Regions from separate parts of the Homo sapiens genome. Here all the other regions are reported to be linked to region 3. Evidence: microRNA targets listed by miRTarBase, many of them from high-throughput screens and not tested one by one. Region 3 holds a microRNA gene; each other region holds the end of a gene's coding sequence.

The links. Region 3 holds the annotated microRNA hsa-miR-7106-5p (UGGGAGGAGGGGAUCUUGGG, at 1,348-1,367, opposite strand). A microRNA usually pairs through its seed, bases 2 to 8, with sites in the 3' UTR of a target mRNA and lowers its output. Matches are read on the target gene's strand: a 7mer-m8 pairs with bases 2 to 8, a 7mer-A1 pairs with bases 2 to 7 and ends in A, and an 8mer does both.
Region 1: the mRNA of SH3RF1 is a reported target of hsa-miR-7106-5p. Seed matches in the 3' UTR shown: 7mer-m8 at 790-796 and 8mer at 1,601-1,608.
Region 2: miRTarBase lists SRRD as a target of hsa-miR-7106-5p. Seed matches in the 3' UTR shown: 7mer-A1 at 1,193-1,199 and 7mer-A1 at 1,028-1,034.

What each region holds. Positions count from the first base shown.
Region 1 is chr4:169,093,479-169,096,829 of GRCh38, reverse strand. SH3RF1 (SH3 domain containing ring finger 1) reads left to right here. Exons shown (of 12, transcript NM_020870.4): 12 at 143-2,571. The coding sequence ends at 311. Among named protein-coding and RNA genes, the nearest start is that of CBR4-DT, 85 kb to the right of the region's middle.
Region 2 is chr22:26,491,314-26,494,313 of GRCh38, reverse strand. SRRD (SRR1 domain containing) reads right to left here. Exons shown (of 7, transcript NM_001013694.3): 7 at 1-2,851. The coding sequence ends at 2,642. It overlaps TFIP11 (tuftelin interacting protein 11), which reads left to right. Exons shown (of 15, transcript NM_012143.4): 14 at 10-175; 15 at 1,946-3,000. The coding sequence ends at 2,301. Among named protein-coding and RNA genes, the nearest start is that of SRRD, 8.9 kb to the right of the region's middle. RefSeq lists an enhancer at 1-1,026.
Region 3 is chr12:113,157,806-113,161,156 of GRCh38, forward strand. It overlaps MIR7106 (microRNA 7106), which reads right to left and starts at 1,372; the gene lies at 1,308-1,372. It overlaps CFAP73 (cilia and flagella associated protein 73), which reads left to right. Exons shown (of 8, transcript NM_001144872.3): 8 at 896-1,471. DDX54 (DEAD-box helicase 54) reads right to left here. Exons shown (of 20, transcript NM_024072.4): 20 at 1-1,304. The coding sequence ends at 1,072.

The DNA of each region.
Region 1 (3,351 bases), not on the chromosome of region 3:
GCAGTATTTTGAGTTGTTTTACAATCATAAATGAATTAATGTTATTTCCTATTTATGTTGAAGGTTCGTGCAGACTAACAGTACACCATTTTTTAAAATCACTGCTTTGAATCGCCTTAACCAAAATCTCTTTCTTTTCTAGGCACAGGGTGGTGGTTTCCTATCCTCCTCAGAGTGAGGCAGAACTTGAACTTAAAGAAGGAGATATTGTGTTTGTTCATAAAAAACGAGAGGATGGCTGGTTCAAAGGCACATTACAACGTAATGGGAAAACTGGCCTTTTCCCAGGAAGCTTTGTGGAAAACATATGAGGAGACTGACACTGAAGAAGCTTAAAATCACTTCACACAACAAAGTAGCACAAAGCAGTTTAACAGAAAGAGCACATTTGTGGACTTCCAGATGGTCAGGAGATGAGCAAAGGATTGGTATGTGACTCTGATGCCCCAGCACAGTTACCCCAGCGAGCAGAATGAAGAAGATGTTTGTGTGGGTTTTGTTAGTCTGGATTCGGATGTATAAGGTGTGCCTTGTACTGTCTGATTTACTACACAGAGAAACTTTTTTTTTTTTTTAAGATATATGACTAAAATGGACAATTGTTTACAAGGCTTAACTAATTTATTTGCTTTTTTAAACTTGAACTTTTCGTATAATAGATACGTTCTTTGGATTATGATTTTAAGAAATTATTAATTTATGAAATGATAGGTAAGGAGAAGCTGGATTATCTCCTGTTGAGAGCAAGAGATTCGTTTTGACATAGAGTGAATGCATTTTCCCCTCTCCTCCTCCCTGCTACCATTATATTTTGGGGTTATGTTTTGCTTCTTTAAGATAGAAATCCCAGTTCTCTAATTTGGTTTTCTTCTTTGGGAAACCAAACATACAAATGAATCAGTATCAATTAGGGCCTGGGGTAGAGAGACAGAAACTTGAGAGAAGAGAAGTTAGTGATTCCCTCTCTTTCTAGTTTGGTAGGAATCACCCTGAAGACCTAGTCCTCAATTTAATTGTGTGGGTTTTTAATTTTCCTAGAATGAAGTGACTGAAACAATGAGAAAGAATACAGCACAACCCTTGAACAAAATGTATTTAGAAATATATTTAGTTTTATAGCAGAAGCAGCTCAATTGTTTGGTTGGAAAGTAGGGGAAATTGAAGTTGTAGTCACTGTCTGAGAATGGCTATGAAGCGTCATTTCACATTTTACCCCAACTGACCTGCATGCCCAGGACACAAGTAAAACATTTGTGAGATAGTGGTGGTAAGTGATGCACTCGTGTTAAGTCAAAGGCTATAAGAAACACTGTGAAAAGTTCATATTCATCCATTGTGATTCTTTCCCCACGTCTTGCATGTATTACTGGATTCCCACAGTAATATAGACTGTGCATGGTGTGTATATTTCATTGCGATTTCCTGTTAAGATGAGTTTGTACTCAGAATTGACCAATTCAGGAGGTGTAAAAATAAACAGTGTTCTCTTCTCTACCCCAAAGCCACTACTGACCAAGGTCTCTTCAGTGCACTCGCTCCCTCTCTGGCTAAGGCATGCATTAGCCACTACACAAGTCATTAGTGAAAGTGGTCTTTTATGTCCTCCCAGCAGACAGACATCAAGGATGAGTTAACCAGGAGACTACTCCTGTGACTGTGGAGCTCTGGAAGGCTTGGTGGGAGTGAATTTGCCCACACCTTACAATTGTGGCAGGATCCAGAAGAGCCTGTCTTTTTATATCCATTCCTTGATGTCATTGGCCTCTCCCACCGATTTCATTACGGTGCCACGCAGTCATGGATCTGGGTAGTCCGGAAAACAAAAGGAGGGAAGACAGCCTGGTAATGAATAAGATCCTTACCACAGTTTTCTCATGGGAAATACATAATAAACCCTTTCATCTTTTTTTTTTTCCTTTAAGAATTAAAACTGGGAAATAGAAACATGAACTGAAAAGTCTTGCAATGACAAGAGGTTTCATGGTCTTAAAAAGATACTTTATGTGGTTGAAGATGAAATCATTCCTAAATTAACCTTTTTTTTAAAAAAAAACAATGTATATTATGTTCCTGTGTGTTGAATTTAAAAAAAAAATACTTTACTTGGATATTCATGTAATATATAAAGGTTTGGTGAAATGAACTTTAGTTAGGAAAAAGCTGGCATCAGCTTTCATCTGTGTAAGTTGACACCAATGTGTCATAATATTCTTTATTTTGGGAAATTAGTGTATTTTATAAAAATTTTAAAAAGAAAAAAGACTACTACAGGTTAAGATAATTTTTTTACCTGTCTTTTCTCCATATTTTAAGCTATGTGATTGAAGTACCTCTGTTCATAGTTTCCTGGTATAAAGTTGGTTAAAATTTCATCTGTTAATAGATCATTAGGTAATATAATGTATGGGTTTTCTATTGGTTTTTTGCAGACAGTAGAGGGAGATTTTGTAACAAGGGCTTGTTACACAGTGATATGGTAATGATAAAATTGCGATTTATCACTCCTTTTCATGTTAATAATTTGAGGACTGGATAAAAGGTTTCAAGATTAAAATTTGATGTTCAAACCTTTGTATGTCCCTTGTGTCAGTCCTTAAAATTTTGCTTTTTAAAAAAACAAAACAAAACAAAAAACACGGGACACATTTGACCTAATTTGTACCTCACAAAAATTCTTTGCATACATCTCAAGCGGAAGATGTCTACAGGAATCAATTTGGTGATTATGACACATTTTACCTCTGCAACTAACAAACCTTGTTTATTTCTCCAAGAAGCTTAAAAAGAGTTTGTGGAGTCGCACGAGGTCATGTATGGCACTTGTGTTCCCCTCTTCCTCTTCCAGTTACTAAAATAATCTGGTGAGTGCTAGTTGTCTTAGCCATAGAAGGAAAAGCAGACCTATCAACCAATAGTATGATAACCCGTAAGTCTCAGCATGGCTTGGGGACAAAATCTTTAGATTCACCATGGTTTTAATTTCCCATGAAATGAAAGGCCCATGTAAGTCATGTTAAAAACTATTTTCTTATTAACTTTTGGCTACTGTCAAATGACTTATCAGAATTGAAAATCAGGAATTCTAGGTTGTATTGTAGCTTTTCCAAAAACTATCTCTGTAGCCACCTGGGCAAGTTGATTATTACTTAGTTTCCTCCTTTTGGTGTCCCATCTACCCCACTGGGTGAGGATGAGGAGCAAAGGAGATAATCTCACTGTTTTTGAAAAGTGCTATTTTAATGTGTGGCATTAAGTTTATCTCTGGTTTCAAATATTCATCTCACTCTCTTGGAGTATATGATATAATGCTTTTCAGGGTCTGATTGGTTTTAGAAGGAACAAATTAAGGTG
Region 2 (3,000 bases), not on the chromosome of region 3:
TTTTGGCAGGTGCTGTGCTCTTGGCTCAGTAACAGCCCAAATTATGAGGAGATCACCAAGTGGTACCTGGGTTGGAAGTCGATGTTCTCAGACCAAGTGCTGGCACATCCATCTGTCAAGGACAAATTTAATGAGGCACTTGATATCATGAACCGGGCGGTGTCCTCCAACGTTGGTAAGTGAGGATTCCCATTTTGGATGTCCTGGCCCCAAGTTTCAGATTTTACACATGTAAATGACACAGAATCAGAGTTTTCTGGTTCCTGTAGGCAGCCTAAACCTTAGGTCACACTTTTGCACATAGCAACAGACTCTCACCCTGCTGACTGGGGTACATGGTCAGCTGGCACCCACTGCCCAGGTCTACCATGACTGAGAGGGGCATCTTCCCTGAGTGGAGACTGACTTAAGCTGGATTCAGATGATGTCAGTCTAACCCCAGGCCCCGCCCTCTTAACCACTGTGCTGTGTGGCCTTTTAAGGCTCATTCATGCCTGAGCATGCTGCTTAGGTGACGCATCTTACAGTGTGGAGTTTGGCACGCGGTCTGACACTTGGTGATTGCTCAGCCTTAATCAGCCCCATTTTACCTGTTAAACAGTAAGATCTACTTTATAGGCTAAAAGGGAGAGTGAGTTCATGCTTGTGTATAGCCTTCAATAGGTGGTGTCTGTGTTGTCAAAAACAGGCAGTTCACTGTTCGTGTACTATATCTGTTCCCAAGTTCTAGGTAAGTCATTCTGCCTAGATCATAAGTAAGTGAGAGTATATTTATGTTTCTACATTTGGGAGCCTATTTCAACCAGTCCTGTGCTCCAGTGTTGCTCATTAGCCGATTCGCAGCATTGAAATGGGATCGTCTAGTCTGTGTTTTACAGATAAGCCCAGCGAGGCTGAGAGCCTGTTCAAGGTCACATAGTTAAAGGGTGGCAGTTAGAACTGGAATTTCTATTTCCTGAGTCTTTAATTCTTGTTATTTAATAGCCTAGGCCAGGCACGGTGGCTCACGCCTGTAATCCTAGCACTTTGGGAGGCCGAGGCGGGTAGATCACGAGGTCAGGAGTTCGAGACCAGCCTGACCAACATGGTGAAACCCCGTCTCTACTAAAAATGCAAAAATTAGCCGGGCGCGGTGGCACATGCCTGTAATGCCAGCTACTTAGGAGGCTGAGGCAGAAGAATCGCTTAAACCTGGGAGGCAGAGGTTGTAGTGAGCCGAGATTGCAAGCACTGCACTCCAGCCTAGGTGACAAGAGCGAGACTCGGTCTCAAAAAAAAAAAAAGAAAAATAGCCTATTCTGTGAAAACAGAGATTAAGTAATAAGGCAAATATACTTCTCTGCTTCTGTAATTATCAAGTTTTTTCTAAAAACTCTTCCTTAGCTACCCTTGGCCTCATGTTTCCAAAACTGTTCCCTGAATATACCCCTCAATTAGCACTTAGCATTTATGGTCTTGGTATTATCCTTTAAACACTCATTTCAGCTCCCTAAATATATGTGAACTTCTTTCAGGATGGGGGCCCTGTGTGGGTAGGTTAAAAATAAAGCCAGTATGGGCCCTATGTTTTCAAGGTACTAAAAGCTGCCTCTTTGGTGGTGGGAAATGGAAACTCTACAGAGCAAGGTGGGAACAGAAGAGTGGCTGAGGACTCTCTGTTAATGTTTCCAGCTCTGAAGGAAGAAATCCCTTGCAGATACTTCATTTTAAAATGTTGAATATTAATAATCTGGTTACTAGATACTAGCCAGGAACCTTCTGAACAGTTTTTATGTGATACTGGCCAGTCGTCTAAACTTCCTCCAAAGTTGTATCTTTGAGGCAGAGCTGCCCTTCAGTGAGTCACAAGCACTCTGGCACACCCAAGACCTGGGCCAAGCCACAGTGTCAACTTCCATACACCTGGAAACACCTCTCCTCACCGCCCTGTCCTCCTGTATCTTAGGTGCCTACATGCAGCCAGGAGCACGGGAGAACATTGCCTATCTCACCCACACGGAGCGGAGGAAGGACTTCCAGTACGAGGCCATGCAGGAGAGGCGGGAGGCTGAGAACATGGCTCAGAGGGGCATTGGCGTGGCCGCTAGCTCTGTGCCCATGAACTTTAAGGACCTCATTGAGACCAAGGCTGAGGAGCACAACATTGTCTTCATGCCCGTCATTGGGAAGCGACACGAAGGGAAGCAGCTCTACACCTTTGGCCGCATTGTGATCTACATCGACCGGGGAGTGGTCTTTGTCCAGGGCGAGAAGACGTGGGTGCCCACCTCACTGCAGAGCCTGATCGACATGGCCAAGTGAACTGTGGCAGGTCCAGAACCAGTCAGAGACTTGCCCCTAAGAGGGATGTACTGTAAATAAACAGTATTTTTAGATCACCTTCAAAAGGGTAACTTCTTTACTCAGGAGCTACTCCACATCAGGCCAGGTCATGAGGGAAGGATGTAAAATGGGACAATGCCACGTAGGGCAGGAATCTTTATACCAAGTCCTCATGTGGGGTATCGTCCTCAAAACAGGACAGCCAAGTTGATGTTCTTTCCTGGCAAAGGAGTTCTCTGTAGTTCCTCCATAGCAGCCTTCCCTTTAGTCTCTGGTGGCAGCTTCTACCTCAGCCAACACTGAGTACCTCACAACGAGTTCAGTCAGTAGCAGAAGGATCTTCTCTCTTGTTCCTGATGATTTCAAGGTCCTCACAGTCCTGATAATCTGGTTCTTCCCGAAACTCCCAAATATCTATGGAGAGCTGTTCTAGCTTTTGCACAGGGAACCAGTGGACAGAGGTATCATTAAATATGTCCATGTATTGTGAAGTCTGAGGAAACTCAAGCTCCTCCAGTCCTTTTAAAATCTGAGCAGAAAAATTCAAGTATAAAAACTTCAGATAGTCACAGTAATCCCCACTCTTCTGGGATAAATTTCCACTTTACTTGTCATCCCCACTTTACTTTTTAAAAAAATAACAAATAGGGTATTTTGATTTAAATGCTTTTGCACAAT
Region 3 (3,351 bases):
AGGGCTGTGCCTGTTCAGAGTGCTGTGGGCCTGCCATGAGGGGCACATAGCAAGCACTCCATAAATGCAGGCCCTGATGAGGAGGTGATGGGAAGGTCAAGGGGCTATGTGTGGGGCAACTGCCTCTAAAATGAGATCAGACCAGGCCCTCCCTGCCAGGGTGGTTGGGGCATGAAAAAAAACTCTTTGTCAGGTCTCAGAACAGGGTCCATGCTAGATGAGAGATCACCAAGGCCCCCTCCACTATGGACTCTGCCAGGTGAGGGGCCCAGCCTGAGAATCCAGCTGCTGGGGCTGCCCTTGACCTTCTCAGAACCTCAAACAGGGGGTGGGTGGCAAGAAGACAGAGGACAGGCCAGGTTCTGACCTCCAGGTGTGGAGGGGCCGCGTTAACCTCTTCATAGCCAGAGGGGAGCAGCTGTGTCCTTGCCCCCTGGGCTGGGCATCCTGTTCCCCTCCCCCAGCCCACTCCCAGCTGCAACCATGTCCAGTGGGAGGAAGGGGGACCAACTCCCGCCTCTGGCACCTGGTTTGTGCTCTGAGCTTCACTTTCCTCATCGCTAAATGGACAAGGCAGCAGAACTCACCCTCAGGAGACCCGCAACTCCTCTGCCACGTTAGCTGGGATTTTAGTACCTGGGTCTCTCCATTCCAGTTCCCCAAGTAGACCGCACTCCTGGCCACCAGCAGTGCTCAATAAAGATTTATTACATTAAAAATTCCATTGCCAAACCCTGAGGCACTCAGGGCTCTGACCGGTGCAGCCATGACCTCTGAACCCAGAACACATGGAAGCAGCAGCAGCTGAGTTGCCAACTCAAGTCTTGGCCTGCCTGGCTTTGCTGGCGAACTCCTGCACACCCTTCAAGGCCCTGTTCAAATGTCTCTGTCTTAGGCTGACGCAGCTGCTGCCCTTCTGTGGCCATACAGTGCTCCTTTTCACAGATGATGGCTCCTGCAGGGAGTGCCCCCAGTGCCCAGCACAGGGCCAGGCACACAGTGGTGCACGGGAACGTCTGCTGATGCCCACCCTAAGGCCAATCAAGGAGCCACGGGGCTGGGTCCTGGTCCTCACATCCTCTTCCGCATCTTGCCCTTCTTGGAGCGGGCACCCCGGCCGAAGGCGCCCTGCTGCAGCTCCTGGACGCGGCGGCGGTTGCGGGCAGAGAGCTGCTTGAGGCCACCACGCTGCAGGAAGTGCAGCTTCTGGGCCCGGCGCCGCTGCTTCAGGATCTGCTGCTTGGTCTTGAGTTCCGGGCGGACTCGGCCTGCAGGGGTGCCTGGGGCGTGGGGCCGGGATGCACCTGCTGGGACAGGGATTCAGGGAGCTCAGCTGTTGGGATCACTCCCAAGATCCCCTCCTCCCAGAAGCTTGCAGACTCCTCCCCTGCCCCTACTCCTGTTCTGTGCTTATTGCTGTGGCCCAGTGTCTGTACACAGTAGGTGGCTAATAAAGTTTTAGGCAGCCTCATGGAGTGGTCAATAACACGGGGCCAGAACCGCTGGGGTTCAAATCCCAGCTGTGACCTCTTGGACCGTGGGCAAGAAGTTAACGGCTCTGTGCCTCAGTTTCCCCATCTATGAATTATAAATCACAGCACCTCCCTCATGGGTGAAGAGTAAATGCATTTCCATGGTGTAAAGTGGTCAGAATTTCAAGGCCTGTCCCATAGTGGGAGCCTTTTGGGCATGACTGTTACTATTAAAAATTCTCCAACCAAGGAGTGTATGTCTCCACAGCACACCTACGGCACGCCAGGCTCTGAGGCCCCCCATAGTAACCGATACAGACCTCAGCCTCTGTCTCCATGGACACCATGCTCTAGGCTTGTTAGATGAAAAAAGAGTGTAGATGAACCTTCCTTTAGGTGGGAGAGGAATCAAAGAAGGCCAGAGAGGGAGAGGGACTTATCTGAGATCACACAGCAAAGCAGCAGCAGCAGCAGAGGTCAGCGACCCTGCCCCAGCCCCACAGGTGGGCATCAGGTAGTCCATTCTTCTAGTTCTCCGGGAGGCAAGCACCACCCTCCCTGGCTCCCACTAAGCCCTGTGTCCTCCTCCTCCTCTTCCCCATTCATAACAGCAGCCTCCCCAGGGCTCCTAGAGGGATGACCATTAAGGTGGTCCCAGCTGTCTCCAATGGAGCCAGGGTGCCTCGCAGGACCTATCACCTCCAATGAGGACAGCAAAGGAAGAACAGCTGCTTTTTCCCAAAGCCCACAGGTCGCCCCCGTCTCCCCAGCCCCTGCACGCCCACTGCACGGCAATGCTCGCAGCAGAAGCTGCTGTTTCACCTAGGTAAAAACAGGCTGAGAAGTGAGGTGTGGGTGGTCCCCACCCAGCCATGCTGACAAGGAGACACTCCCACAGATGGGAGAGCTGGAGAGGGAGGAGCCACAGAGAACAGGCCCAGGCAAATGCACGCAGGCTCACAGAGACACCCAGGGGAGGCAGTGACCAGCCCCAGGAGGTGGAGGGACACAAGCAGGGGCTAAGGCCATCTGAGAGAGACCCAAGACATGGTCCCAAACTCCCCTCTCCCCAGGGAAGACTCCAGGTGGGAGCCTTGGGCAGCTGGGTGACCCAGGTTCAGTCATAGCCCTCATAAGGCACCTGTTTCCTGGCCTGTAAAATGGGTATTCGCAGTCACCTTGCCTCCCAGGTCATGTGTGGCCTTCCAGGACAGAGCCTGCCTGCACCCAGCAAGCGGGAGCCCCTCCCTGATAACAGCCCTTAAGCACAGGCTCTGGCAGACAGAGCCGGCTTCAAATCCACCTTAGCTTGTTACTGGCTGAGGGACCCAGGCCAGATCAAAGAGGTCCAAGTCCTCAGATGACCAAATGTACCACTTGCCAACCCACATTTCAAGGAAGTATCTTCCTCAACATCCCCTGTGATCGCCTCCTCCCAGAACCAAAGCTGCTTCTGACTGCGTCTTTGGTGACATGAACTTCCCCACAGCATTGCTAAAAAGAACGTCACTCCTAAGGATGCCACAGGGAATCAATTCATGCTCACTGTCAGGTCGAACCACATGCAAATGCCATTTTTGCAGGTGAAAATGGCCTGCATTTGCACAAGGTTCCACCTCCCGGGTTCTCTAGGATTTTACACAATCGGCTTAATTAGGTGAACAGGGCATCTACCAGAAGTTATCCCTGTAGCTTCATCTGTGAAGTGGAAGGGGGTCGGGGACAAGGCACCTGAGGGGCATGGCACTTCCCAGCGCCTGTCAGGCGGTGCTCGTGACCATCAGAGGCCGGGACAGTAGGAAGGGGGAAACTGTGGGTGTGGGGGTTGGGTGGGGGGGATCATGGAGGGACCCAGGGTTTTGGCAGCATACCCCAACAC